Regions from separate parts of the Homo sapiens genome. Here all the other regions are reported to be linked to region 3. Evidence: microRNA targets listed by miRTarBase, many of them from high-throughput screens and not tested one by one. Region 3 holds a microRNA gene; each other region holds the end of a gene's coding sequence.
Evidence for each region. The annotated mature microRNA hsa-miR-6879-5p reads CAGGGCAGGGAAGGUGGGAGAG and lies in region 3 at 1,771-1,792, opposite strand. An mRNA with a match to its seed (bases 2 to 7 or 8) in the 3' UTR can be bound and repressed. Matches are read on the target gene's strand: a 7mer-m8 pairs with bases 2 to 8, a 7mer-A1 pairs with bases 2 to 7 and ends in A, and an 8mer does both.

Region 1 (8,499 bases), not on the chromosome of region 3:
CCGAGGCGGCGCTGGGCCCCGAGGCGGTGCTGCGCTTCCTGGCGGAGCGCGGGGGCCGGGCCCTGCACGCCGAGCTGGTGCAGCACTTCAGGGGCGCCCTAGGCGGCGAACCGGAGCAGCGCGCCCGCGCCCGCGCGCACTTCAAGGAGCTGGTGAACGCCGTGGCCACTGTGCGCGTCGATCCCGCCGACGGCGCCAAGTACGTGCACCTCAAGAAGAGGTTCTGTGAAGGGCCGTCCGAGCCCTCCGGGGACCCGCCGCGAATCCAGGTGACCGCCGAGCCCGAGGCCCCCGACGGCCCTGCCGGGCCCGAGGCGCGCGATCGGCTCCCCGACGCGGCGGCCCCGGAGTCGCTCCCTGGACAGGGCCGCGAGCTGGGCGAGGGAGAGCCCCCCGCCCCCGCGCACTGGCCGCCCCTGAGCGCCGGGGCTCGCAGGAAGAACTCGCGGCGCGACGTGCAGCCCCTACCGCGGACTCCAGCCCCGGGGCCCAGCGAGGACCTGGAGCTCCCGCCACATGGCTGCGAGGAGGCGGACAGGGGCAGCTCCCTTGTGGGGGCTACCGCACAGAGGCCGGCCCGCCAGAACCTCCGTGACCTGGTGATGGGCAGCTCCCCGCAGCTGAAGAGGAGCGTGTGTCCCGGGGGCAGCAGCCCGGGCAGCTCCTCCGGGGGAGGACGCGGCAGAGGCGGGGGCGACTCAGACAGCGCATCGGTGGCCTCGTCGTCCGCGGAGGAGGAGAGCAGCGGCGGAGGCTCCGTGACGCTGGACCCCCTGGAGCACGCGTGGATGCTCTCTGCCTCCGATGGCAAGTGGGACAGCCTGGAGGGCTTGCTCACCTGCGAGCCCGGCCTGCTGGTCAAGCGGGACTTCATTACCGGCTTCACTTGCCTGCACTGGGCCGCCAAGCACGGCAGGCAGGAGCTTCTGGCCATGCTAGTCAACTTCGCCAACAAACACCAGCTGCCGGTGAACATCGACGCCAGGACGAGCGGGGGTTACACCGCCCTGCACTTGGCAGCCATGCACGGCCACGTGGAGGTGGTGAAGCTGCTGGTGGGGGCCTACGACGCCGATGTGGACATCAGGGACTACAGTGGGAAAAAGGCCTCCCAGTACCTGAGTCGGAGCATCGCCGAGGAGATCAAGAACCTGGTGGGAGCCCTGGACGAGGGTGACGGGGAAAGCGCCGCGGGTAGCGGCGGCGGGCGCTGGAGGCTTTCAAAGGTGCTTCCCTCGCATCTCATCACCTACAAACTCTCACACGCCCTAGAAGATGGAGGGGACCATCACCACCATCACCACTCGGCTGAGGGGTGGGTCGGAGGCAAAGCCAAGGATCCAGGGCGCAAAGCCTCGGGCAGCTCTAGTGGACGTATAAAACCCAGACTCAACAAAATCCGATTCAGAACCCAGATCGTCCACACCACACCCTCTTTCAGGGACCCAGAGCAGCCGCTGGAGGGCAGGGGGGAGGAGGGAGTGGGGGAGGAACGACCTGTTAAAGGCCACTCGCCCTTCACATTGAGACCAAAGTCCAATGTATTTGGGTAAAAATTGCTTCTTTTAGAAAATGCAAAGGTTTATTTGTCTTAATAAATTGAATACTAGGTGTTGTAAGGAAGTGAGACCAGAAGGACAAGCTAAATTATGCATTCTTACTTGAGGGATCGGAATGGATGGGGCGGAGTTCTCTTCAGGCTAGCCTTCTGGGAAAAGTGGATGTCTTTTTCAGAGATTCATCATACCTTGACCTGTACCTCTTCTCTGCCCTCCACTTCCCTGCCCTGGAGTCCGTTTCTGGAGACTAGAAATGTATCTAAATTGGGGGAACAGAATGAATGAATTAATGAATGAGAGTTCCTTTGCTTTAACCATTCCTGGATGCCTGCAAAGTAAGGAATAATGCAGTTTTTATGTATCTGATTTTATAAGGGGTTACTCTTTCAAGAGTAACAAAAAAATGCAAACTGTAATGAAACTACATTGTATTTCTAAGTGTGAAAACGACAGGCTGCCCCGTTTTTACTAATTGCATTTGCATTTTAAGGTACTACTGAAGGTCAGATCAAAGTTGAAATGCAAAAATACTAATTAGAGAATAATGTGAATAAAATGGGAATCTTCTTGGTATTTTATGTGTATTGTAAGTAGCAGTTAAATTATTTTTTTAAAAGCAATTTCAGTTTTAATCACTGAACAAAAGAAACAGGCAACATTCACTTCTGTAGTATGGTTTCCACCTATCTCTAACACCACTATTAAGGTACACCAGTGTTAAGGTACATTAATAACTACACAAAATTTTATTTAAAGAGAACACTTAGCAGCCTATGATAGTTTTCAATAAAATGTTGCCTCTCTTTCGGATTCTCACTAACTTTTGTTACTATTCTAAAAGTTTGAATTTGCTGGGGTGTTTATTCTGAGGATTATTTAACCATTGTTCTATTTGGCATAACCCTATTTAATGGTGCTTAGAGCTGAATTACCTACAGAAACTGTTTCTGGTTTAAATAATTAGCACAAATTGGCCTAAGTATTCATGAGCCCATGTTTCTGTGAAGTAATTATTAAACCAACTTAATGATTCTTATGTAAGGTACACTTTTTATTTTAATACATTGGTAGTCTCTATGACTTGTAGCAATGTTTTACAAATGTTTAAAATGCTAAACTTAATTTTCCAAGCTTTTCTTGACAATTAGATACCTATCCTGTAGTTACTGAAAATCTGGGTAGTAAATCTACCCAATTAAAATGGCACTTTATAAAAGGGAATAGAGAAGAGATGGGACTATTTCTATATTTAAATGCTGCTGGCTATTCCTTTGTATATAAATGAAAAATACCATTCATTAAAATTAAGTACTCGTTTAAGTATGGTTCTTAATTACATTTCATTCATTTATATTAGAGTAAATGGCTTCATAACTACTTTAAAATTTAACCCACAAGCATATTAAATCTGTTTGTTATAAGATTGGAAACAATTTTTGAGAGGGACTAATTTAAACAAGTCCTCCTTTAGTCTTTTGGGTCGCGTAGTTGCTGAAACCTAAGTACCTGCAGCCTACAGGATAAGGAAGTTCACAGCCTGCGGGGTGAATGAACCCATGTGTGAACTGCACAGAGCAATTCATAGAAAATGCATAGAAATTTGTAACACTTTGGTCACATCTGTCTCTAGATGGTCATTGAATTTGTTTAAAGATGGATGAAAGGCCAGGCATGGTGGCTCATGCCTGTAATCCCAGCACTTTGGGAGGCCGAGGCAGGTGGATCACTTGAGGCCAGGAGTTTGAAACCAGCCTGGCCAACATGGTGAAAACCTGTCTCTACTAAAAATACAAAAATTAGCCGAGCGTGGTGGTGCGTGCCTGTAGTCCCAGCTACTTAGGAGGCTGAGGCATGAGAATCACTTAAACCTGAGAGGTGGAGGTTGCAGTTGAGCCAAGATCACGACACTGCACTCCAGCCTGGGCAACGGAGACTCTGTCTCAAAAAAAAAAAAAAAAAAGATGAATGAAAATATGAAATATATAAACTAGTATCCATTTATTTGCATTTATTGTGGGATTTCAGATATGAACGGTGTAAATTTGAGAAGCACTTATGCATACATGTGGGTGAAAAACCAATCTAATTTTGTATAAATAAAAACAGGCTCCTGGAAGGTGAAAAGTAGTCATTTGTTCTAAATCTATACATATTACTTGTATCTAGTGCAGAATAAGCTATAACATCCCATTGAGGAATCTTAAATTTCATAGACATGTAAAGCTGAAGTAACTCTAAAGAGCAGATGCTTCAGAACCATCAGAAGGTTCTGGTCAACAGTCAGTATTATCTCTTAAATGTATATGTTGGTCACTAATTGCACAAAATCTATAATTTGCCAGGGCTTTAGAGATTGAGTCAATATGTCATTTACCATGGTTTTCCCACTGAAGGCTTTAACTTTTCTGATAAAATAATATTTTAAATTTTCAAAAACCCATTCCTGAGGAGAACTACTTCTAGCATTCCTTTTCATGATGTGCTTTTGTGCAGTAAGTAGCATTTTCGGCTACTTAACTTTACATTCCTCTTATTTTTCAGTTTCCAGTCAAGATTATAAAAAGCAAATGATTGATATAATTTGATATTCATAGAGTTGTGCCTACCTTTAATGGAAAAATACATGTCAGATACTTAGATGTTTATTGATATGAGACTATGTGGTTAAAAAACCCAAGTATGTCCATGTGTTTCTTATAAGGTACACTTGAAACTAGTGAGTGTTTGTCACATTTCACTTTCATGGTATATAAAATGCAGTTTGCATATATAACTTGAATATCTGGTACTAGTTTTTTCACGCCTGCAATCTTGGAGTCTAGGTTGCCTTGTCTCTCCTATTTTTAAATAAGTGAAATTTGGGAGATTGTAAAATCTGTAAAGTTTGTTTTGTGAAAATAAAATGTTCACAGTAGAATTTTTCTCTGAATTGTCTAAGTTTCTGTCGTCCTTTAGACTTTTTACATATACTGTGTTTTACAGTTCACAAAATGCTTTTTGAAGTTTCAGTTTATTTGACCCTTTTCCTATCCCTTAAGATTATGGGCCATATATTGTTGACTTACAGATAAGAAAATAGAGGTTAATGGTTGTTCAGGGTCACACAGTAAAAAGCTGTTAGTAAGATTATAAGAGTCAGGGCTTTCCCACAACGTTATCTTTTCTGCACATTGAATTGCCACATTTTTAGCAAAACTGCTGTAGTTTGGCACCAGTGATGGAGGAATCAACTTGGAGAGAAGGTAATACCTCCACCACTACCTAAAAAAAAGCTGTATGGGTTTTGCACACACCATCTGCCATAAACCTGCCCTACCCAGGGCTGACTTCAAGACAGGTGTAGGAATACCGTTTTTCATTTTTCAGCCTCTGTGAAGCATTGAGAGTTAATTACCTCATCAAGGCTTCCTGTGATCTGTATTTTTAGCAAAATTCAACTCTGTTGAATGGCAAAGGGATGTGGTACTCCTTTGGTGTAATCGCCCACTATTGCTCTATCCGGGAGATCCCACTGTGATGGCTGCTGGGGTTATTCTTGTTTTATGATAACCCATAAAATATTTTTCAGGATCACTGAAAGACTAGATAAGTAGTTTGTTTTTCTAGAATAACTTCTTTCCTTAGAAGTACATGTCTTAAAAGGATTTATTAACCAGTTCACTTAAAGATATTTTTGAAATTTTCCTAGTAAAAATTATTTTTATTTTGCTAAGTAAATAGCATTATTTGGAGTTTCTTACATGATTAATTCCAGGATTAAATACTTGGAATTTGCTGTAAACCAGTATTCCTTCAATGATCACCCAAGTCTTCATAAATCACTGAATATTAGAGGGTTGGAAGATGACTCTACAGAAACTTGTTTCTCAAGATACAGAAGTCATGTGGTTCACATAACTACCTGCTTTTTCCATGAAGAACACTATACTTTTTTTCTCAATCTTCTCTTTAAATGTCAGTTTCATCTCAGTAAGTAGCTTTCCTATTCTGTTAACTAATAGCCTATTTTTCCACATCGATGCATTGGTAAGGAATGTGTGACAAATGTTCTACCCTTGCACAGTGCCTGGCATGTTGAAGGTACTCAGTAAGGGTCTTTTAATGGAAAACATTAAATATTTTATAATGTTACATAATATGGATAATTCAATTACATGCATTCATGCTATGTGAATAGTTTTTTTATATAACATGGCTCTTAAATACCAGCCTATCAGTTCATCTGCAGCTCAGCCAAAAGAACAGCAAGTTATTCCAATCCTGAAGATAAAATCAGCTTTATTAGAACTGTACTTCGTGAGCGATTTAAGAGATTTTCAAGAGTAAATTTGATTATAAGAAAATTTTGCTGGGCGTGGTGGCTCACGCATGTAATCCCAGCACTTTGGGAGGCCGAGGCAGGAGCATCGCCTGAGGTCAGGAGTTCAAGACCAGCCTGGCCAACATGGTGAAACCCAGTCTCTACAAAAAATACACAAATTAGCTGAGCATGGTGGTGCATGCCTGTAATCCCAGCTACTTGGGAGGCTAAGGCAGGAGAATCACTTGAACCCGGGAGGCGGAGGTTGCAGTGAGCTGAGATTGTGCCACTGCACTCCAGCCTGGGCATCACAGCGACTCTGTCTCAAAAAAAAAATAGAAAGAAAGAAAGTTTCCTTACAAGCTGACTCAAGTCCAAGACCTGTAGGAGAAATTATTCTAATTGGCCTTAAATAGTCTAAGTACTGTCAGGTATACAAATGACTACTTATTCTGTGAAATCCCAAAGAGCAAATGAATAGGGAAATGAAGTTTAGTTTAACATGGAGAACTTTCTAATAATCATTTTAAACATACCATGGACTGCCTTGTGAGATAGAACATTCAGCCTTTGGAAATGTGTCAGAGGTTGCATGAGCACCTGAAAATTTAAAATAGATCATTTTAAAGCACACTTGTGACCAGTTCTGTCTCAAGAAACACTGCTCTAAACCATATTCATTCTGACCAAAGCTTTGGCCAAAAGCAGCCTAACTTAGGATAAAGTTAACCAGTGCTTTGCCAGTGGTATAAAGTAGAATCATATAAGTTGTTGGTTTGTTGTTGTTGTTTTCTTTTTGAGATGGAGTCTTGCTCTGTTGCCAGGCTGGAGTGCAGTGGCGTGATCTTGGCTCACTGCAACCTCTGCCTCTCCGGTTCAAGCGATTTCCCTGCCTCAGCCTCCCGAGTAGCTGGGACTACAGTCGCGCGCCACTACGCCCAGATAATTTTTTGTATTTTAATAGAGACGGGGTTTCACCATGTTGGCCAGGATGGTCTCGATCTCCTGACCTCGTGATCTGCCCACCTCGGCTTCCTAAAAGTGCTGGGATTACATGTGTGAGCCACTTTTTTTTTTAACCCAACTTTATGCTATTCTGATCAAAGAACCTGGGAGCCCTCCATTAGAATAGTCTTCTGGATCTCTAAGAAACTTTGAATATAATAGTTTAGAAACATAATTGAGCATTCTTGAGATTTGTCCAGAAATTTCTGATATTGATGTTGGATCTTTGAATTTGCATTTAAGAGGCAATGATGGCCAGGTGCGGTGGCCTACACCTGTAATCCCAGCACTTTGGGAGGCCAAGGCAGGTGAATCACGAGGTTAGGAGTTCGAGACCAGCCTGGCCAACATAATGAAACCCCATCTCTACTAAAAATACAAAATATTAGCTAGGCATAGTGGTGGGCACATGTAATCCCAGCTGCTTGGGAGGCTGAGGCAGGATAATCTCTTTAACCCGGGAGGCGGAGGTTGCAGTGAGCTGAGATTGCACCACTGTACTCCAGCCTGGTCCACAGAGTGAGACTCCATCTCAAAAATAAATAAATAAATAAATAAATAAATAAAGAGGGAATTATTTGGTTGTAGTCAGTTCAGCACTATTGAGCAAAGAATCACCTTTGGCTTAGCCAGGTTTAGAATCACCTAGGTGCTGACATGGCAGCAAGACTAAGGTTAAGACTAAGACGGCTAAGACTTTCAGGAAGCTTACTATATATACCCGATGAGGTTTCAAGTACTTTATAAAAAGCAAGCTGTTTAACTCTCATAATACCCCTTCCCTGATTCTAGTACCTCACTTCTACTGATGGAGAACTGAAATGCAAAAACCCAAATAGCTGCTACTTGCCCAAGGTCACAAAGCTAGTTCTTAGCAGTTCAGCTTTGTGCTCAGGCAGACTGGCTCTAAGGTTTGTGGGAAGCCCTAGTGGTACAGGAAATACCACTTCTTTGGGAACATAAGAGACAGTCAACTGGCCTGAAGTTTATGGGGCTAGCACCTAATGAAGTACAAATGATACAGGAAATTCATACTATTGCAGAAGAGAGCAAACTAAGAACCAAAAACAAGCATTAATGATTGAGACAGATAATGACTTGAACACTCTGTTGTTACTTCACAGCAGTAGGGTTAGAACTGGATTTTTAGGGGTTTGCATTTTCCAGTGTCACCTAGGATCAAATTAATTTGGGTCAGGAAAGAATATTTCTTCAGCTCAGAATGGTGGAGCTGCTAAAATATTTGAGGTGTAGTTATATTTCTTTGTTTAGGCTCACCTCCCCTCTGTCCAGTCCCCTTTCACTTGTCTAAGCACTTAAGCATTAACGGAAGGGCTTAGCCCACTTCCACATAATCATGAGATTAAACGCCAGCGTAGAAGAAAACCAGCAACACGGCATCTGGTTTTCGTACTATACATTTATAAATTTGCAACCCACTAAAAGAATTTTGATAGTTCATTTTGAGGCCGGGCACAGTGGCTCATGCCTGTAATCCCAGCAATTTGGGAGGCTGAGGCAGGTGGATCACCTGAGGTCAGTAGTTCGAGACCAGCTGGCCAACATGGTGAAACCCTGTGTCTACTAAAACTACACAAATTAGCCAGGTGTGGTGGCACAGGCCTGTAATCCCAG
Region 2 (4,000 bases), not on the chromosome of region 3:
AACTAAAAAATACAAAAATTAGCTGAGCGTGGTGGCACATGTCTGTAGTCCCAGCTACTCGGGAGGCTGAGGCAGGAGAATCGCTTGAAGCCGGGAGGTGGAGATTGCAGTGAGCCAAGATCACGCCACTGCACTCCAGCCTGGTGACAGAGCGAGACTCTGTCTCAAAAAAAAAAAAAAAAAGAAGTATATCTGTCAGTCCAGCCCATCTGGAAGGAGAGGGGAGTACACAAGGGCAAGAATACCAGAGGTGGGAGCACTGGGGGCTGTCTTTGAGGATACCTACCCACCACACTCACACAGGCATAGTATTTTTGGAAAGATACACTAGAAACATTCAATATTGGTTGCCTTCAGGGAAGGGAATTGGGAAACTCCCACCTCAGCCTCGCAGATAGCTAGGACTACAGGCACACACCACCACACCTGGCTCTTTTTTTCATAAAGACAGGGTTGTCTGGCTAGTCTAAACTCCTGACCTCAAGCCATCCTCCCACCTTGGCCTCCCAAAGTGCTCGTACAGGCAAGAGCCATTGTGCCCAGCCTAAATATGCTCTTGCATACCTATTTTACAATATTGATATATCACTTAAAAAATAAATCAGGCTTGGTGTGGTGGCTCATGCCTGTAATCCCAGCACTTTGGGAGGCCGAGGCAGGCAGATCACTTGAGGTCAGGATTTGGAGACCAGCTTGGCCAACATGGCGAGACCTTGTCTCTATTAAAAATACAAAAATTAGGCAGGCATGGTGGTAAGCACCTGTAATCCCAGCTACTCTGGAGGCTGAGGCAGGAGAATCGCTTGAACTTGGGAGGCAGAGGTTGCAGTGAGCTGAGATTGTGCCTCTGCACTCCAGCCTGGGTGGGAGTGAGACTCTGTCTCAAAAAAATAAATTTTATTTTAAATTTAAAAAGAACAATGAAAAATATGGCATTTTAACAGACACAAAGCTAAGAGGGAACAAAATAAAAACAATACTTAAATACTATATAGTTATTACTGAGCACCATAAACGTGCTTGTTTCTACTTAGCCATTACTTGCTTCTATGAGGGAGGTTTAAAAACCTCTTTATTACACATGCATACACATAAGCGAGCATCTCCCACTTGTAGAGCAAAATACAAACGCTTGAGCTGGGACTCATAATCCTCTTCACAATTTGGTTCCAGTCCACCCTTACTGACCCACTTCCTGCCATCCTTCTATCCATCTGTGAACTTGTTATTTGTGATACTGAACTATTATTTGCCAGTTGTGGAGGGTAAAGGCAACAAGCACAATGCCTGGCACACAGCTAGCTTTCGTCAAGTGTTGGCTTCCATCCTGCCTCAAACATGGCCTTTGTTTAGATTATCCCCTGTGCATGGAATGCCCCGCACCCCTCTCCTAGCCCCAGGTAAAATTCCCTTCAAGGCCTACCTCAAATGTCACTGTCATCAAGAAGGAGTTCCACAGGCAATTAGTTATCATCTCTATTCTCCCACAGCACCTGTTTTTACCTTAACTATAACACTTTTATTATTGTATTACAACTTAAGTCTCTGCAATCCAAAGTCTGGTCCTTGGACCATTAGCTGAGACTTCGTTTGAAATGCAGAATCTGGGCCCCATCCCAGACCTACAGAATCAGAATCCAAATTTTAACAAGATATCAGTGACTTATTTGCACATTAATCTTTCCCTGGTGGAACTGTGAGCCTTTCTAGGGCTCTCTTTTATTTCTGTCCCCAGAGCCCAACATAAGACTTGACACTTAAATGCTTTTTAAGTTTTATTTGCAATACTTATATGATAGATGTTTTTTAATTCCTGGAAAAATAAATACACATTATTAATAATAGTTATCTGGTAGATGGATAACGGTACATTTCTATGTAACATTTTCATTTTTTGTAATCAGAATGTATTACCTTTACAGATAGGCAAACACAAAGATTTGGGAAAATGCATGTAAAATCTAAGAAAAAAGGTAAATTGTAGATATAATACATTCACAAAAAGAATATAACTGTGTTGAGCTATATTTACAGATATAAAAAGATGAACAAATTACATTAGGTTTTTTAAAAAAAGACAACCTAACAGTATGTATCGATGATAGCACGTTTGTTCTTTAAAAAAATTTGTGAATTGGTCAGGAGCAGTGGCTCATGCCTGTATTTCCAATATTTTGGGAGGCTATGGTGGGAGGATCCCTTGAGCTCAGGAGTGAGCTGGGCAATATAGTGAGACCCTATCTATATTAAAAGAAAAAATTTGTAAATAGACACTGAAAAGGTATCTATCAAAATATCTCTAATGAAGTTTGTTTTACAATTTTCTACATTTTACATTTTTTCTAGTTTTCCTATGATCTTTATAAAAGCTTATCACTTATAAGAAAAAAAGTTATTTTCATTTTTGAAAAATATCTATACCCTTTACTAAGTCCCTTTACATTCAATGACCAAGATTCCCACAACACTCTGGGAAGCTGAAAGATCTGAAAGTAACACGGCCATTACATAGATGAAGGCAGCAGACCTTGGAAATGTAACCCCGATGGACTGACTCTGGGCTGGCATTCTCCCACCCCTGCGGCTACTCCAGACTCAGAGGAATGTGGCAAGTCAGATGCCAGCTTTGGCCAAAAAAACTCCTGTCATTTTAGGAGTCTCACCATGCCCAGTTACTTCCTCTGAGATGGTAACAGCAATAGGGGAACACTTCAAAGACAAAGCATTCAGAATGATTCATGCTGCACCACCTCCCCCTGGTGGCAGGTTCTGGAAATTGGCTTGAGGATAACTATTGCAATTGGTCAAAATTTTTAAAATATATTTTCTGTCAAAATCACCCTTATTTCTTTAAATCATCAAAACCACTTTTTCTTTTGTCAAGGATTCAGGTATTGACAAAAGACACAAAACCAGGACCTGGTGTCAACCAGACAATGCTTTGGATGATGCCAAGGGCAGTGTGGCTCTTTGCCTCTTGTCCTTGCTTCCCCACCTCTTTAGGTCCACAATAGAGGAAAGACACTATGTTCTTCAGCACCGTCTTTCCTGTTGTCTCTCTAGCTCCATCCACTTCCCTGAGCCTCAGAAAAGGGCAAGGCATGGCTCACATACTCTCAGCCACGGCCTGGCATGCTGCAGCTCCAAAATCAGACATCTAGGCGCTAATCCTCCCCAAGACCCAGTCCTAAGGTTCAAGGCACTGATGTTTCAAATATGTCAGACTGAAATACTGACGTTTCTTTAGAAACATCAGGGTTCAGAATGTCAGTCTTCAACTGTGGTACCCGTGGTCTCCAGATACGCATAGCTTCCTTACTCTTCCAGGAAGAAGGAAACATTCAATAGGATATCTGAAATAGGAAGACAGAAAAAATGGCATTATCACCTCTCCCGAGAACATAAAACACACAGAGGCACAGCAAGGGCACCTTCCTAATGCTTCCAAAGAGGCGAGCCACAGGGAGAGAAAGGAGGAGAGGAGACACAAAGGAAGAACACAAACCAGTACCTTGTACAAGATCTTGGTGTTCGTCTTTTGAAATTCGGTCCCAGGCCTTGGGCAAAGCTTGTATGTTTGCCAAGTCTCCCCACTGGATAGACGAAAGAAGATACTTTCTCTTCAGGTACCTTTCTGGAAGTTAAGGACTGCTCAAAAGAAAATGCAGTATGCTGAAGTGAAAAAAAACACCCTGGTGAGAACCAGAGGGAGCCATAAAAGTGAAAGTGCAGATATCCTTACATTTTACCAGGTGGGCCTGATTCACCTATGCTACAAATATTTCCTGAGCAACTGTTTACTAACATGGCTTTGTGCTACAGGGAAAGAGGAATGAAACCATCCCTGAAATCTGGGATCTCAGCATGGTGAGGACAAAATCAGATCCTGAAAAGAAAGAACAAAAGGGACATGAGAGGTAAAGCTAGCGGAGGTTCAGAGGATAAATACATCCAATTCAGAGGAAGCAGGGACACCCCAGCTGGTAGGAAACATGAACAA
Region 3 (8,499 bases):
GTGGTGGTGGGAGAGGCCCAGGAGTGAGTTTGTGGACGTAGCCATCAAGGCTGGCCCACATGAATGGAGCAGCCCTGGGCCAGGGTTCTGGTTCCAGCCAACCACCACCCAGGGGACACCGCTGTCCCCATGCTCCAGCTTCCTCTTCCATGAACAGGGAGGGGTGTTGCATAAGATGATCCCTGAGCTCTCCGTGGTTCTAGACTGCTCCAATCTGATGACCAGACATGCACAGAGGATGTGAACTCTCCCTCTTCTGGGTTCACACAGCCCTTTAACCGTTCCACTCCCGACAGGCCTCACTGTCCACCTCTGATTCTAGTTGTTTCCACATATGTGTCTGTGATTGGGAGAGATGTGGGTGGACGGGTCTAACCCTTGGGCCTTGACCTGCCTTGACCAGCATTTGACGGCCCTGATCTCATCTGACCTGCTCCACCCACATAGGAGATGTGTGCGGTGTGCCCAGGACAGTCCCCACTCTGCCTGCAGAATCCCCCCTTTCACTCTCACAAGTGTCCTCATTTTCAACTAAATGCAATTTTGTAGCCTGAATCAAACATTGGAACACAAAAAGTATATTAGTGGAAAAACGTGAAATTCAAATAAAATCTGTAATTAAGATAATAGTAATTCACCAGTGTTGATTTATTAGTTTGGACAGGCCACGGTTAGGTAAGATGGGGAAGCAAGGTAAAGGGTATATGGGGGACCTCTGACCTCTGTACTATCTTTGCAAGTGTCCTTCTTTTTTTTTTTTGAGACGGAGTCTCACTCTGTTGCCCAGGCTGGAGTGCAGTGGCACAATCTCGGCTCACTGCAAGCTCCGCCTCCCAGGTTCACGCCATTTTCCTGCCTCAGCCTCCTGAGTAGCTGGGACTACAGGCGCCCGCCACCATGCCTGGCTAATTTTTTGTATTTTTAGTAGACACGGGGTTTCACCATGTTAGCCAGGACGGTCTCGATCTCCTGACCTCGTGATCCGCCCGCTTCAGCCTCCCAAAGTGCTGGGATTACAGGCGTGAGCCACCGCACCTGGCCCCTTCCTTTTTTTTTTTTTTTGAGACAGGGTCTTGCTCTGTCGCCCAGGAGGCTGGAGTGCAGTGGCACGATCACAGCTCACTGCAGCCTCAACCTCCTGGGCTCAACTGATCCTCCTGTCTGAGCCTCCAGAGTAGCTAGGACTATAGGTGCGTGCCACCACCCCCAGCTGAGGTCACACAGCAAAGAGTCAGACTCTTGAGCCAGGCTCCATGGCCTCTCGAAGCTTCATACTGGCCTTGGGTTATCCTCCCTAAAGCCCAGTGATGTGGGTGTCATCATCACCATTTCAAGGCATAGAAACTGATGCTCAGGGTAGTGACGTAGTAACACCACAGGGACGTTAACTCAATCTCAGTCCACAGCATGTGTCCTGCCTCTGGCACCATGGGCCTCCCATGGTGGGGGCCCAGAGAAGGAAGGGATCCTGCCTCTGGTTTCCCTCTGGGGCCACGGGCCCCTCTGGGCATCTGCTGAGAAGGCAGCCACACGTCCATACATGTACACAAAGGGTAGGAGCTGCCCACCTCCTCCACCAGCAGGCTCTGGAGCTCCCGCTGGCAGTCCTGCATGCGCTGGCGGTCTGCGCTGTCCACTACCCAGATGAGGCCATCGGTGCTCTCAAAGTAGTTCCGCCAGTAGGACCGCAGGGACTTCTGGCCACCCACATCCCAGATGTTCAGCTTGAATCTGGGCAAGGAGCGGGTGACAGGAGGGTCAGCTGGGCCCCTCTCCCACCTTCCCTGCCCTGCTCTGGGCTGGCCCTCCCATGGGGCCCCTGCTCACCCTCGGTGCTCCAGGGTCTTGATGTTGAAGCCCAGCGTTGGGGAGATGGTGTCGATGTCCTCCCCATTGAACTTCTTCAGGATGGTTGTCTTTCCAGCATTGTCCAGGCCACTGGGGCGCAGCAGGTTAAGGAGAAGTCCCTGTTCTCTGCCAGGTGGTGACATTGTTGCAGAGCCCCTTAGGGGACTCATTATTTCCCACCATGTATCAAACTGAGTTGAGCACATGCCTGACCATAATCGGCCCACAATAAATATGAAAGTATCAAATTATAAATATCATCTCTACTGACCAAAGGCTCCTTAATTTGTTGAACACCTACTATGTGCCAGACCCTCTTCTGGGTGCTAGAGGACAAAGCCCTGCCCTTAGGAAGCTTACACTCTAGCGGGAAGACAGTCAATAAAGTACAAACAAATGAGAAAAGAAGGCCCTGCCAGATCCCGGCTAGCGCCATCAACACAACAGAGAGGCTTTCCAAGAGGGCCATCGGAGGAGGCTCTTTCAGCTCAGGTGCCGGGGAAGGCCTCTCTGAGGTGTCTGGAGCTGAGACCCAAAATACAAGGAGCAAGCTTTTTGAAGAACTAAGGTAAGAACAAATATCTGGAGGCAGCCACCCTCATTTGTTTCTGGAATATTCCAGACCTGCTACTGCACAGTGCAAATTAATGGGTGTGCTTACCTGTGGAAGGAACCACCCTCCTCTATCTTCCCAACACTGCAGCTCAGTTGGGCATGGTGGGGTGGGCGGGTCCTGGACTCGACCACCTTTCCCTGCTCATCGGAGCTGGGGCAAATGACCTAGGCCCAGGAGAGGGGTGAGGAGGGCATTTCCCCTGAGGCCCAGCCTTAGCCCCTGGAACCTAGCCGCTGATGACCCCCTGCCCCCAAGCCATCATCCATGTTTCCTTCCCCTCTTGATCATTCCCACTGGCTGATGAGCTTGCCGTTCTTTCTCCCACCTTAAAAAGAGCAAATAGGCCGGGCGCGGTGGCTCACACCTGTAATCCCAGCACTTTGGGAGGCCAAGGTGGGTGGATCATCTGAGGTCAGGAGTTCGAAACCAGCCTGACCAACAAGGTGAAACCCCATCTCTACTAAAACTACAAAAATCAGCCAGGCGTGGTGGCGGGCCCCTATAGTCCCAGCTACTCGGGAGGCTGAGACAGGAGAATTGCTTGAACCCGGCAGGCAGAGGTTGCAATGAGCCGAGATCACACCACTGTACTCCAGCCTGGGCGACTCAGCGAGACCCCGTCTGATTAAAAAAAAAAAAAGAGCAAACAAAGCCCTTGATCTCTCTGCCCCATCTAGTTATTCATTTATATCTTTCCTTTTACAGGAAATCTCAAAATAGTTGTTTGTGCTCACCCCCATTTCTGCCTTCTTGCTCTTTCAAGAACACACTCCCATCAGGCTTTTGCTGCTGCTGTGGCCAAAACTGTCCTTACCAAGGTCAGTCCCCAAAGACCTCCCTGTGGCCCTCTAGTGCTGGGACAGCGCTCAGTCATCTTCTGTTCCCCACTCAGCACCTGATGGAGTGGCTCACCCTCCTCCCCAGCACATGCGCTGCCCTTGGCACTGGGACACACCCTCACCTGGTTCTGCTCCTCACCTGACTTCATCCTGGTACAACCGGGTTCTCTTCTCTGGCCACGCTCATCCCTGGGTGACCTCATCCAGGATCACAGCTTCAAATACCATCTCTATCCTGATAACACCCAAATGTGCACCTCCCACACACTGGACCTCAGTGCCTACATCCAGCTGCCTGCCTGACACTTCTGGGCTGTCTCGGAGGCATCTCACATGGCACACACAGGCACACACAGGGTTCTCATCTCCACCCTGAACCTGCTCCTCCCCCAGTCCTCTCCATCTCAGCAAATGGTTCCTCACCCTTCTAATTGCTCAGGCCAGAAACTTCCATGACCTCACTACTTCCATCCTGGTCCAAGCCACCATCCTATCTCGCCTGCGTCACTGCAGTGGCCTAACTGGTCTGCGATTCCTTCTCTCCACTGCACTTCTCACTGAAAGGGAAAACCAAAAACCAAAAGGCCCTAGGTGAGGGGGTTCCCAGTCAACGCTCCTCCTCCCCACTCCAGCCATACTGCCCTCCTCACCAGTCCTCTGAACACGCCAGTTAGTCCTCCCAGGGCCTCTGACTTGCTGTTCCCTTTGCTTTAAAGTTTCCCCCCCCCCCGAATTGCTATATGGTTCAACCCTCGCCTCCCTCATGTACTCAATTGTCATTTTTTTTTTTTTTAACAGAGTTTCGCTCTTGTCACCCAGGCTGGACTGCAATGGCGTGATCTCAGCTCACTGCAGTCTCCGCCTCCCGGGTTCTGGCAATTCTCTTGCCTCAGCCTCCCAGGTAGCTGGGATTAAAGGTGTCCACCACCACATCCAGCTAATTTTTGTATTTTCAGTAGAGACGGGATTTCACCATGTTGGCCAGACTGGTCTCAAAACTCCTGACATCAGGCGATCCATCCGCCCCGGCCTTTCAAAGTGCTGGGATTACAGGCATGAGCCACTGCGCCCTGCCATCATACAGTGGCCTTCTTTGACCACCCTAAATTGCATTATTCTCCATACCTATATACGTAGTGGGAGTTCATCCTGGAGCAGTATAAGGCCCTGTTCCCCAGAAGCATGGTCCAAAGCATGGCCCATATATATATAGTATGTATGGAGAATATATATATGTATAAATAGAGACAGAGTCTCACTATGTTGCCCAGGCTGGTCTCAAACACCTGGGCTCAAGCGAACCTCCCACCTCAGCCTCCCAAAGTGCTAGGGTTACAGGTGTGTGCCACCGCACCCAGCCTCTATTACATATTTTACTTACTTCCTGTGTTATCATCTTTCTACCCGCGGGCAACCCCCCCGCCACACACACACACACGCATTACAGAATTTCCATGAAGGTAAGATTTTTTAGTTTTATTACCCTGGGCACTAGGACAGTGTCTAGCACATATTAGGCACTCAATATTTATCAAATGAGTGAACTGTATGCTTTTCTTAGAGCTCTTTAAAGCAGACATGCGGCCCGGCGCAGTGGCTCACGCCCATAATCCCAACAGTTTGGGAGGCCAAGGCGGGTGGATCACTTGAGGTCAGGAATTCGAGAACAGCCTGACCAACAAGGTGAAACCCCGTCTCTACTAACAATATTTAAAAAAATAGCCGGGCGTGGTGGCGGGCACCTGTAATCCCAGCTACTTGGGAGGCTGAGGCAGGAGAATTGCTTGAACTCGGGGGGCGGAGGTTGCAGCGAGCTGAGATTGTGCCACTGCACTCCAGCCTGGGCAACAAGAGCGAAACTCCGTCTCAAACAAAACAAAATAAAACAGACATGGGCCGGACTCCGTGGCTCATGCCTATATTCCCAGAGTTTTGGGAGGCTGAGGCAGGAGGATCACTTAAGCCTAGAAGCTGGAGGCTGCGGTGAGCCTTGATTGTGCCACTGCACTCCAGCCAGGGCAACAGAGCAAGACCCTGTCTCAAAAAACAAAACAGTCATGATGTGATTATTAAGTTATATGTGCACGTAAGCGTCTTATCTCCCCAGCCATTCCCCCGCGGAGCCTGGCACAGAGCTGGGGGAACAGGTGCGGGCGCCTAACTGGACTCAGAAGGCGCACAGGGCGCACGGGACACTCGGGCCCACACACACACATCCTCAGCCGCAGGGACAACCACGGGCCGCGTAACACCAAAGAGACGGACTGTTGGATCCACGCTCGAAAGGATCCGCGGAGCCCACACGCGCCACCCGCCACCCCGCACGCCCCCGGGATTCGGAGCTCGAGGGCGGGGCCGGGGCCTGGAACCCTCGGGCCCGGGGGAGGAGATCAGAGCCGGGAGGGCAGCGGCCCCACGCTTGGGCCAGGCCGCCGGGTGGTGGCGTCCGAGTTATCTCCGGGACCCACCACCCCTGACACTCGGGCCGCCTAGCCCCGCCGCTGCGCCTGCAGGACCGCTTCTGCGGCCCTCGGAGCTGGCCCCTGCCCCAGTCCTGGGGTGCGGCTCCTCCCGGCCCGACGGGGCGATTGATGGGGCCCGCGTGGTGACGCCAGGGGCAGTTGGGACGCGCCGGCCGCCGCGTTCCGCTCCCGACAGGGGGCGCCCGGCACCGCCTGCCCGGCTGGACCCCGCCACCCTCGCGGTTCCGGCGTCCGGTAGGATACAGCATGAGCAGTCGCAGCTCCCGCTCTTTCTGCTTCATCTTCTTCAGAATGGTCAGGAGCCCCATGGTCCCCGGAGCCCCCTCCCGGCCGCCGTTTCTTCCCAGTCCCGGGACCCCGCTCCCGGTTCCTGTTGGCTATCACGCTCGCCGACGGCATAGTCGATTGGCCGGACGCTCGTTTGGTCCCGCCCTTGCCGCACGTGACCGCGAGGTCGCCCGCGCAGCTGCTGCGAGGGTCCCTCTAGCGGCGCGGGGGGTTTCTGTGCTGCCGCCCGCCCTGACGCTGCGCCTCCCGAGGGCTGAGGCTGGGGGAGCAAGGGCGACTCCCCCACCCTTTCCCCTGCCGGACTGGGGCTCTTGGCCGGAGCGGAAACCTTGAAGTTCCTGAGTTGCATCTTGGCTGCGTCTGACCTGAGAGTCAGAACCCAGGGCCCCCAGGTACGGACGAACTCATCCTGGGGCCAGTGTAGGCCCCCGTTCCCAGCAACACAGTCCAAATCCTGCTCATCTGGGCCCTCGGCATCATCCTCTGACAGAGCGGAAAGTTGGGCCTCCCCCTACCCGGCTCCGGTGGCTCTCAGTTCAGGGCGGCGGTGCCCCCTGGAGGCCGTTCGGAAACATGCGGGGCGTCCCTGGGTTCCAATGACGGAATTGCAGTCCCGCCCCAAAGGCTGCCCCCACCCAGAGGCCCAGCGTTTCCCTGTTCAGAAGCACAGTTCCTACTTTTGCAGATGGAAAAACTGAGGCCCAGATGGTGCTTAGCACAGTGGCTGGCATGTAGTAGGTGCTCAATAAATATTTGTTGTTGAATGAATGGCTTTGTCCAAGAGTTTCATTCTTTACTTTAGCGCTCAAGAAGTCCAGAAGAAGTGAGGAAATAGGTCAAGGACCAAGCCCTTTTGTAAACTCAGGAGACAGCCTTATTGCTGCAGGTAAGTGTGGATAGGCAGCACGGAAGAGCCTCTCTCATGCTTGGGAAAGAGCTGTCAGCACCAGCTGAGGACAATAGCTAACTCCTGTGTAACTGTTTGCAACGCACTTCACGTGTTCAGCTTCATCCTCCCTGCAACCCTGAGAGGTTTATATTCTTTTCGTAGCTATGATAATGGAATCCAGAGTGTTTAAGGAGCATGGGTGAGATTCAAACTCAGGTCTAGTAAATGGTAAAGCACAATGTCTTCATGCCTCCATGAAGTTTGCCTAGAGAGAGGTCTGGAAGAAGCTGGAGCTTCCCATCTTGCAGAAAGGGGCTTGTGGTCAGAGGAGGGCTGAACAGATAGGCTGCCTGAGTGGGACCCTTCGGTCAGCACCATTTACCCTCCATCACACACACACAAGGAAGAAAGTGAGCATATCGCCTACCCAGAGGCTTCGAAATGCAGCTAAGATCAAAATGGGAAATGCTGGCCGGGCGCCATGGCTCACGCCTGTAAACCCAGCACTTTGGGAGGCCGAGGCAGGTGGATCACGAGGTCAGGAGTTCAAGACCAGCCTGGCCAACATGGTGAAACCCCGTCTCTACTAAGAATACAAAAAATTAGCTGGGCGTGGTGGCGGCACCTGTAATCCCAGCTATTCGGGAGGCTGAGGCAGAGAATTGCTTGAACCCAGGAGACGGAGGTTGCAGTGAGCCGAGATTGTGCCACTGCACTCCAGACTGGGTGACAGAGTGAGACTCCGTCTCAAAAAAAAAAAAAAAAAAAAAAAAGAAATGTCTAGAGGTAGGAGCCTGCCATCCTGCTTCTAGGAGCCTGCACCACAGACATTCTGGCACTGCACAGGAACAACGAAGTTCACTGTGGCATGGTTTGGAACAGCAAGAAATTGGAAAAAACCTAAGTGCCTCCAGTGAGGGCAGGTTACCTGAGCCGGGGTAGGTGCATGTGAATTCATGAAGCCCTTAAAACAGTGAAGTGGGCCAGGCGCAGTGGCTCATGTCTAATCCCAGCACTTTGGAAGGCAGAGGTGAGTGGATTGCTTGAGCCCAGGAGTTCAAGACCAGCCTGGCCAACTTAGGGAGACTCCCATCTCTATAAAAAATACAAAAATTAGCCAGACATGCTCACTTCAACCCAGGAGGCGAAGGTTGCAGTGAGCTGAAATTGTGCCACTGCACTCCAGCCTGGGCGAAATTGTCTGTCTCAAAAAAAAAAAAAAAAATTAGGTGTAGTGGTGCACATCGGTAGTTCCAGCTACCTAGGAGGCCAAGGTGGGAACCAGGGAGGATAAGGCTGCAGTGAGCCGTGATCATGCCACTGCACTCTAGCTTTCATGACAGAGTTAGACCGTCTCAAAGAAACAGAAAACAGTGAGGTGGAGCTGTAAGATACCAGTGTGGAAAGATGTCCGCGCCATATTAAATGAAAAACAAAAACAAAAATTCAGTCCTCTTTTAGTTTTAAAAATAATATTAACTGGAAATATGCCCACTTAGCAATGTTTTTTAATCTATGAGATGCATTCCATTAAGG
Region 4 (7,647 bases), not on the chromosome of region 3:
TTATCAGTAATTACAGGTATGGACTTACAGCTCCAAAAAATTAAAAAGAATGCAGAGAACAGAAAATAATAGAGCTAAATTTTTTTTTTAATTTACAAGCCACGTATGGTGGCTCACACCTGTAATCCCAGCACTTTGGGAGGGTGAGGTGGAAGGGCCATTTGAAGCGAGGAGTTTGAGATTAGCCTGGGCAGGGAGACCCTGTCTCTACAAAAAAATTTAAAAATTAGTGGGCTGTGGCGGCATGTGCCTATAGTCCCAGCTACTTAGGAAACTGAGGTGGGAGGATTGGTTGAGGCTTCAATGAGCCATAATTGCACCACTGCACTGCAGCCTGGGCAACAGTCTCAAAAAGAAAATTTACAGAATAAGCCAATTCCTGGTAGAGAGAAGTATTAAGTTTCCATAGAGTTTGAATTAATATATTTTCCTTTTATTGCCAGGTTGGGTATCTACAGCCATTGGTTGCTGTTCAGGTCAGCTTTGCTCCTAACAACACTGGGAAAGAAGTAACAGTTGAGTGCAAGATTGATGGATCAGCCAACCTAAAAAGTCAGGATGATCGTGACAAGTTTTTGGGACGAGTTATGTTCAAAATCACAGCACGTGCATAGTATGAGTAGGATATCTCCACAGAGTAAATGTTGTGTTGTCTGTCTTCATTTTGTAACAGCTGGACCTTCCATTCTAGAATTATGAGACCACCTTGGAGAAAGGTGTGTGGTACATGACATTGGGTTACATCATAACGTGCTTCCAGATCATAGTGTTCAGTGTCCTCTGAAGTAACTGCCTGTTGCCTCTGCTGCCCTTTGAACCAGTGTACAGTCGCCAGATAGGGACCGGTGAACACCTGATTCCAAACATGTAGGATGGGGGTCTTGTCCTCTTTTTATGTGGTTTAATTGCCAAGTGTCTAAAGCTTAATATGCCGTGCTATGTAAATATTTTATGGATATAACAACTGTCATATTTTGATGTCAACAGAGTTTTAGGGATAAAATGGTACCCGGCCAACATCAAGTGACTTTATAGCTGCAAGAAATGTGGTATGTGGAGAAGTTCTGTATGTGAGGAAGGAAAAAAAGAAAATAAAAGTGTGTTTGAAAAATATTATCTTGGGTTCTTTGTAAAATTTATTTTTTACATGCTGAATTAGCCTCGATCTTTTTGATTAAGAGCACAAACTTTTTTTTGTAAAACATGTAAAAAAAAAAACTGGGATTAATTTTTAGTGTTGGAACTGCCTCTTATTTTAGGCTGTAGATAAAATAGCATTTTTAGGTTAGCCAGTGTGACTATGCACCTAATTTTTTATGAGATTAAATTCATAAGACTTAATTTGTACAATAGTTTGTGAAATATCTTGTTACTGCTTTTATTTAGCAGACTGTGGACTGTAATAAAGTATATAAATTGTGAAATATAAAAACTTGGAACTTATTCAAAGCTTCAAAGCAAACAACAGTTTTGTGTAAGCATTCTTTCCCCTCCAGTATTAGGTGTATTCTTGGTAGGATTATTTGTGATAATTTGGGCTACTTGGCTGAGAAAGTTGTGCTTCCCATATGATCTGTGTTGCTTCTTGTTTTTTCTTAAGGCTGTTGTTTATTGTTACTTTTCTCCTTTTTTAAAAAAAAAAAAAGGCAGCCGGGCGCAGTGGCTCACGCCTGTAGTCCCAGCACTTTGGGAGGCCGAGGCGGGCGGATCACAAGGTCAAGAGATCGAGACCATCCTGGCCAACATGGTGGAATCCCGTCTCTACTAAAAATATAAAAATTAGCTGGGCGTAGTGGTGCGTGCCTGTAGTCCCAGTTACTCGGGAGGCTGAGGCAGAAGAATCGCTTGAACCCAAGAGGCGGAGGTTGCAGTGAGTCGAGATCACACCACTGCACTCCAGCCTGGTGACAGAGCGAGACTCTGTCTGCAAAAAAAAAAAAAAACGGCAAAGCAGATATTCTTGAGGTTTTCTTTGTGGTGGTGCAAGCCAGAAGGGGTGGGACCCAACCCAGCTGGCTCAAGAATGGCCGTTTGGAGTAAACGTGAGGGCTCTGGGTGGCCTTGCCTGGCCAGATGGGCCTTGGTGGCCTGGCGGCAGCCTCTGCCCTTTAGTAGTGGGCACTCAGCCCCACGTCAGAGCTCTGCTTGTTCCTCTGTCACTAAAATCATAGTGATAAGAGATTTTCACTGAAGGAAATTATTGGAGTAATTACAGCAAACCTTTTCTGGGTTTTGATTTTCTTCTTTATGCTATCTCTTAAGAGTGTAAAACAAGGATAAAAGAATGCTACGATGTGAGAGAGGTGACATGACTTTAGTTGGGCCAGTGTGACCTCATCCTCAACAGCTGTAAACTTTGGTGCCTGTGAAATTCATATTAAGTATTCTATTAAATTGTATTTTTGAGTCTTTTGAAGTAAATATGGATGGAATTTCTGTTTTAACGAGCTTAGATAAAAGACTCATTCTCAATACACAAGAAGAATTGAGATGGCATCCAACATAGGGTGGGTGTTGGAGACAAATAAAAATGGCACACACATGTAAGTCACTAAAGCATCTTGTATGCCTCCCTGGTTCAGAAGTTTGGACGTGGATCAGCACCTGACTGCCCAGTGATCTTAGCTGATCTCCCCAACTTCTCCTGGCTCTGCTTGCTTCATCTATCGAAATTAAGGCAGTTTAACAACAATTTAGCAGACCTGCTATATACCGGACTGGATCAGCCAGACTTTGAGGATACAGAGATGAAAAGACATGGTTTCTCAAAGATCTTAAACTAGGAGGGAACAGGCTCTGAGACACAGCACGTGGCATGATGATGGTGATGGCGCTGACATGCAAGAGGCCATGAGGTGGGGTAAGACTAGATTATTCCAAAGGTCCCACCCTTCCCTAAAGTTTATTTTTGTGAAAGATCTCAAGAGATAGGTGGTGCTTGATGGAGGAGGAAGAGTGGCTGGGAGTTGGGCCTGTATGGGCCAGGTAAGGACTGGACTCGGAACGAAGGATGCCTGGACACAGCTGGAGTCCGCCTTTCTGCTGCTGACTTCAGGTTTTCCTCAGCATTTCAGGATGTGCTTACAGATCACCTGGGTATCTCATTAAAATGCAGATTCCAGTTCACTAGGAGGGACTCTATAGATGTAGCAACTCCAAGGTAATACCTACCACTGCTCATTCACAGACCACAGTTTGGAAGGGACCAAAGACAACCAGCTTTGCATCCTTGGCCATTGAGCCTAGCACCAATTTGATTTAATAGATGGAGAAGATTGAGCCATCATTTGACTTTAGCTGATATTTGGAAGTGTGTGCACTCCTGCTAGCTGGCCACCTGTCTGGGTAAGAGAACCCTGAGAATACCCAAGGGCTATGCCATTGGCCCTTGGGAGAACTGGAGTGGTGTTGCTTCTGGTCTTGCTGCCCTGCAGGTTACATTCCCAGGTTGAGCTGAGGGAGTGTGGGGTGAAATGAGATGTGTCCCCATGTTTTTCCCCATTAGCGTTTATGTTCCTTTTTTCTGGGTGGCTGAGAACAGCTGGGGGTGGTGTGGAAAGATAGAGTTTCCTGAGGAATGATGCGCGTCCTCAGATGAGAGCTCTCGGGCAGGAGGGAACTGGGATGTCCTGAGCGGCCGTATGGCAGTGTGGACGGTGGGCGATGGCTAGAGGGGACGAAACAGCCAGAGCTGGGGAGGAGGAACCCAGTGGGGTGTGGCTGGCGGAGATGGCCAAAACTTCAGCTGGAGCACTTCAGAGCACCCTTCAGAGGCGATTCATCCCGAACTGGACCTGTTGCTGATGAAGTCAATGTGGTAGGCAGAATTGCAGCCCCCATGACCTTCACGTTCTGGGGCCATGCCCATGGTTATGCTCTATCACGTGGCAAGAGGGGCTTTGCAGATGAAATTAAGGTAACTGGTGGGTTGACCTTAAAATGGGGAGATTATCCTGGATTATCCGACGGCCCAGTGTGATCATAGGAGCTGTAAGCAGAAGTGAGACCTGAAGCCTCTGGGTTTGGACACATGCTTGCTGTTTTCAATGTGGCTGTGTGGGAAGCCAAAGGAAGTGCATTCTGCCAATGGCCAGTGAGCTTGGAAGCCAGATCTTCCCCAGAGCCTTAAGAGCCCAGCCCTGAGGCCCTGCATAGAGGACCCAGCTGGGCTACATTGTGCCCACACCGCTGACCTACAGAAATGGGAGGTTATGAATATTGTTTTAAGCCACCAATTTCGTGATAATTTGTTATGGAGGCAGATAGAATGCTGATATGGTCATCTTCTCAGTGATGATTACTACTCCAACCCAGTGCTTCTCAAACTGCTCCATCAAGGGCTCCTGTTTAAAATGCAGATTCTGATTGGGCAGTGTCCAGGGTGGGGCCCAAGATTCTGCTTCCTAACAGGCTTTCAGGTGCTGCTGTTGCTTCAAGGGCTACATCAGAGCACGAGGCCCTTGTGTGTATGATTGTGGTTGGTGTAATGCCTGGAATTCAGAGCCCGCGTAAGGAGGGAGGAAGAGGGATCTGAGAGAAGAAAGGCCTAGGATAGAATTTGTTCAGCTATGAAATAACACAGAGGCTGCGGAGAGGTGCCCTGTGTTGGGCCCCTGGCTTTCAGACACTAAGCTTTGTCAGTGTGGTCTCAGAGCCCGGGTTGGATGGGACATTTTCATTTCCTTTGCTATTTTCTGTGGCCCCGTGGGAGGACAGGGGCCTGCAACCATGAGTCCGGCTTCCTGAGGATGGCATGGTTTGGGCCTATTAATGGGATCCTTGTCAGCAGTCTCTTGCTCCTAACTGCATAGGGTGAGGTTCTGGGACCACTGGCTTGGAGATGAAGGGAACTCACCTCATCTGTGCAAAGTTGCTGTCATGTCATTTAGTGAGATACTTCATTTAAAAAATTAATTTAGGGCTGGGTGTGGTAGGGCACACCTATAGTCCCAGCTACTTGGGAGGCTGAAGCAGGAGGATTGCTTGAACTCCTGGGAGATCACAGTGAGACCCCATGTCTTTAAAGAAATATTGAGGCCGGGTGCAGTGGCTCACACCTATAATCCCAACACTTTGAAAGGCCAAGGCGAGTGGATCACTTGAGGTCAGGAGTTCAAGACCAGCCTGGCCAACATGGCAAAATCTCATCTCTATTGAAAATACAAAAAACAAACAAAAAAACTAGCCTGGCGTGGGGGCGTGCATCTGTGGTCCCAGCTACTCGGGAGGCTGAGGCAGGAGAATTGCTTGAACCCTGGAGGCGGAAGTTGCAGTGAGCCGAGATCACACCACTGCACTCCAGCCTGGACGACAGAATGAGACTGCCTCAAAACAAAAAACAAATATATATATATATATATATTCTACCAAAATTCACTTTAAAATGTGTATTGAGGCTGGGCGCTGTGGCTCATGCCTGTAATCCCAGCACTTTGGGAGGCCAAGGTGGGCGGATCACCTGAGGTCAAGGAGTTCAAGACCAGCCTGACCAACATGATGAAACCCCATCTCTACTAAAAATACAAAAAAGTTATCTGGGCGTGGTGGCAGGCACCTGTAGTCCCAGCTACTTGGGAGGCTGAGACAGGAGAATCACTTGAACCTAGGAGGCGGAGGTTGCAGTGAGTGGAGATCACGCCCTTGCACTCCAGCCTGGGCGACACAGTGAGACTCCTTTTAAAAAAAAAAAATGTGTATTGAGCACCACTGTGTGCTAGGCACTGTGCAAGGAGCCTGGGTTACACTGGGGATCAAAACATAATCCCTGCCTTCATGGAACTTACAGATTAGCAACTACCACGAGGCCCAGGCTGCTTCTGCCTGGTACTGTGGGTGGTGGCTGTCCTCTTGGTTCCTAAGGGATAGAGTCAGTTTGGCATGCTTCAGTCTCCAGCTGGGCCAGGCCGGCCCTCAGCCAGCACTCTGCACTCTCCACACCATGAAGCCTCTTAGAAGACATGCAGGAGCTGTGTTTCCATGACTTTATATCCAGAGCCATCCAGTGGGAGGGCAAGCCCCTTACCTACACACACAGTCTTCAGGGCACTTTACTCTTTAAAAATACCCAAAGGCCCAGGCGCGGTGGCTCATGCCTGTAATCCTAGCACTTTGGGAGGCTGAGGCAGGTGGGTCACAAGGTCAGGAGTTTGAAACCAGCCTGGCCAACATGGTAAAACCCCGTCTCTACTAAAAATACAAAAATAAGCTGGGTCACAAGGTCAGGAGTTTGAAACCAGCCTGGCCAACATGGTAAAACCCCGTCTCTACTAAAAATACAAAAATTAGCTGGGTGTGGTGGCAGGCGCCTGTAATCTCACCTACTTGGGAGGCTGAGGCAGGAGAATCATTTGAACCTGGGGAGGCAGAGATTGCAGTGAGCCAAGATTGCACTACTGCACTCCAGCCTGGGCGACAGGGTGAGACTCCATCTCAAAAAAAATAAATAAAAATGAAAATACCCAGGGCCAGGCGCGGTGGCTCACACCTGTAATCCCAGCACTTTGGGAGGCCCAGGTGGGCAGATCAGGAGGTCAGGAGATCAAGACCATCCTGGCTAACAAGGTGAAACCCCATTTCTACTAAAAATACAAAAAATTAGCCGGGCGTGGTTGCGGGCGCCTGTAGTCCCAGCTACTCGGGAGTCTGAGGCAGGAGAATGGTGTGAACCCGGGAAGTGAGCCGAGATCGCACCACTGTACTCCACCCTGGGCAACAGTGAGACTCCATCTCAAAAGAAAAGAAAATTTAAAAAAAAGAATATTGTGATGTGTATAAGTGTGTTGCGAGAAACAAAGATATGGCCAGGTGGGATGGCTCACACCTATAATCCCAGCACTTTGGGAGGCCGAGACGGGTGGATCACCTGAGGTCAGAAGTTTGAGACCAGCCTGGCCAAAATGGCGAAACCCTGTCTCTATTAAAAATACAAAAATGAGCTGGGCATGGTGGCACATGCCTGTAATCCCAGTTACTCGGAAGGCTGAGACAGGAGAATCACTTGAACCTAGGAAGTGGAGGTTACAGTGAGCCGAGATCGTGCCACTGCACTCCAGCCTGGGCAGGCGTGGTGGCTCATACCTGTAATCCTAACACTTTTGGAGGCCGAGGAGGGAGCATCACTTGAGGCCAAGAGTTTGAGACCAGCCTGGGCAACATAGTGAGCCCACATCTCTACAAGAAATTTTACAAATTAGCTATTAGCTGGGCATGGTGGTGCACACCTGCAGTTCCAGCTACTCAAGAGGCTGAGGCAGGGGGATCCCTTGAGCCCAGGAGGTCAAAGCTGTGGTGAGCTATGATTGTGCCACTGTACTCCAGCCTGGGCAACAGAGGGAGACCCTGTCTCTGAATGAATGAATGAATGAATAAATAAATAAATAAATAAATAAATAAATAAATTTGGGGGAACCCATGTTTTGCGCTGTGTCCAGCCACAGAGCCCTCATTAGCCCAGACACATCCGCTGAGCTCCTACCAGCACCTTCATCAGGAGCCCCAGCCAGCTTGGAGACTTCCTCAGGGCTTGTGACACTTCCCTGGGGAGAAGAGAAACGCATCTTGCTCAAAGATGAGTTAATTCACTCACAGGCTAACAGTCAAAAAGAGTTTTATCCCCAAAGAAGTAGCAATAAAATAAGCCAATCCAAG

Region 1: the mRNA of SOWAHC is a reported target of hsa-miR-6879-5p. Seed matches in the 3' UTR shown: 7mer-m8 at 1,767-1,773 and 7mer-m8 at 1,782-1,788.
Region 2: the mRNA of AIRIM is a reported target of hsa-miR-6879-5p. Seed matches in the 3' UTR shown: 7mer-m8 at 2,955-2,961.
Region 4: the mRNA of ATP1B3 is a reported target of hsa-miR-6879-5p. Seed matches in the 3' UTR shown: 7mer-m8 at 806-812.

The regions. Positions count from the first base shown.
Region 1 is chr2:109,614,515-109,623,013 of GRCh38, forward strand. SOWAHC (sosondowah ankyrin repeat domain family member C) reads left to right here. Exons shown (of 1, transcript NM_023016.4): 1 at 1-4,476. The coding sequence ends at 1,553. It also overlaps a transcript of RANBP2 not described here. Among named protein-coding and RNA genes, the nearest start is that of SOWAHC, 4.4 kb to the left of the region's middle.
Region 2 is chr1:37,679,808-37,683,807 of GRCh38, forward strand. AIRIM (AFG2 interacting ribosome maturation factor) reads right to left here. Exons shown (of 5, transcript NM_001350770.2): 4 at 3,512-3,630; 5 at 1,763-3,353. The coding sequence ends at 3,316. Among named protein-coding and RNA genes, the nearest start is that of AIRIM, 8.7 kb to the right of the region's middle.
Region 3 is chr11:65,011,803-65,020,301 of GRCh38, reverse strand. MIR6879 (microRNA 6879) reads right to left here and starts at 1,797; the gene lies at 1,732-1,797. It overlaps ARL2 (ARF like GTPase 2), which reads right to left and starts at 6,142. Exons shown (of 5, transcript NM_001667.4): 1 at 6,030-6,142; 2 at 1,828-1,938; 3 at 1,569-1,731. The coding sequence starts at 6,094. It overlaps ARL2-SNX15 (ARL2-SNX15 readthrough (NMD candidate)), which reads right to left and starts at 6,142. Exons shown (of 11, transcript NR_037650.2): 1 at 6,030-6,142; 2 at 1,828-1,938; 3 at 1,569-1,731. RefSeq lists a silencer at 5,536-6,295.
Region 4 is chr3:141,925,088-141,932,734 of GRCh38, forward strand. ATP1B3 (ATPase Na+/K+ transporting subunit beta 3) reads left to right here. Exons shown (of 7, transcript NM_001679.4): 7 at 444-1,462. The coding sequence ends at 614. Among named protein-coding and RNA genes, the nearest start is that of ATP1B3, 52 kb to the left of the region's middle.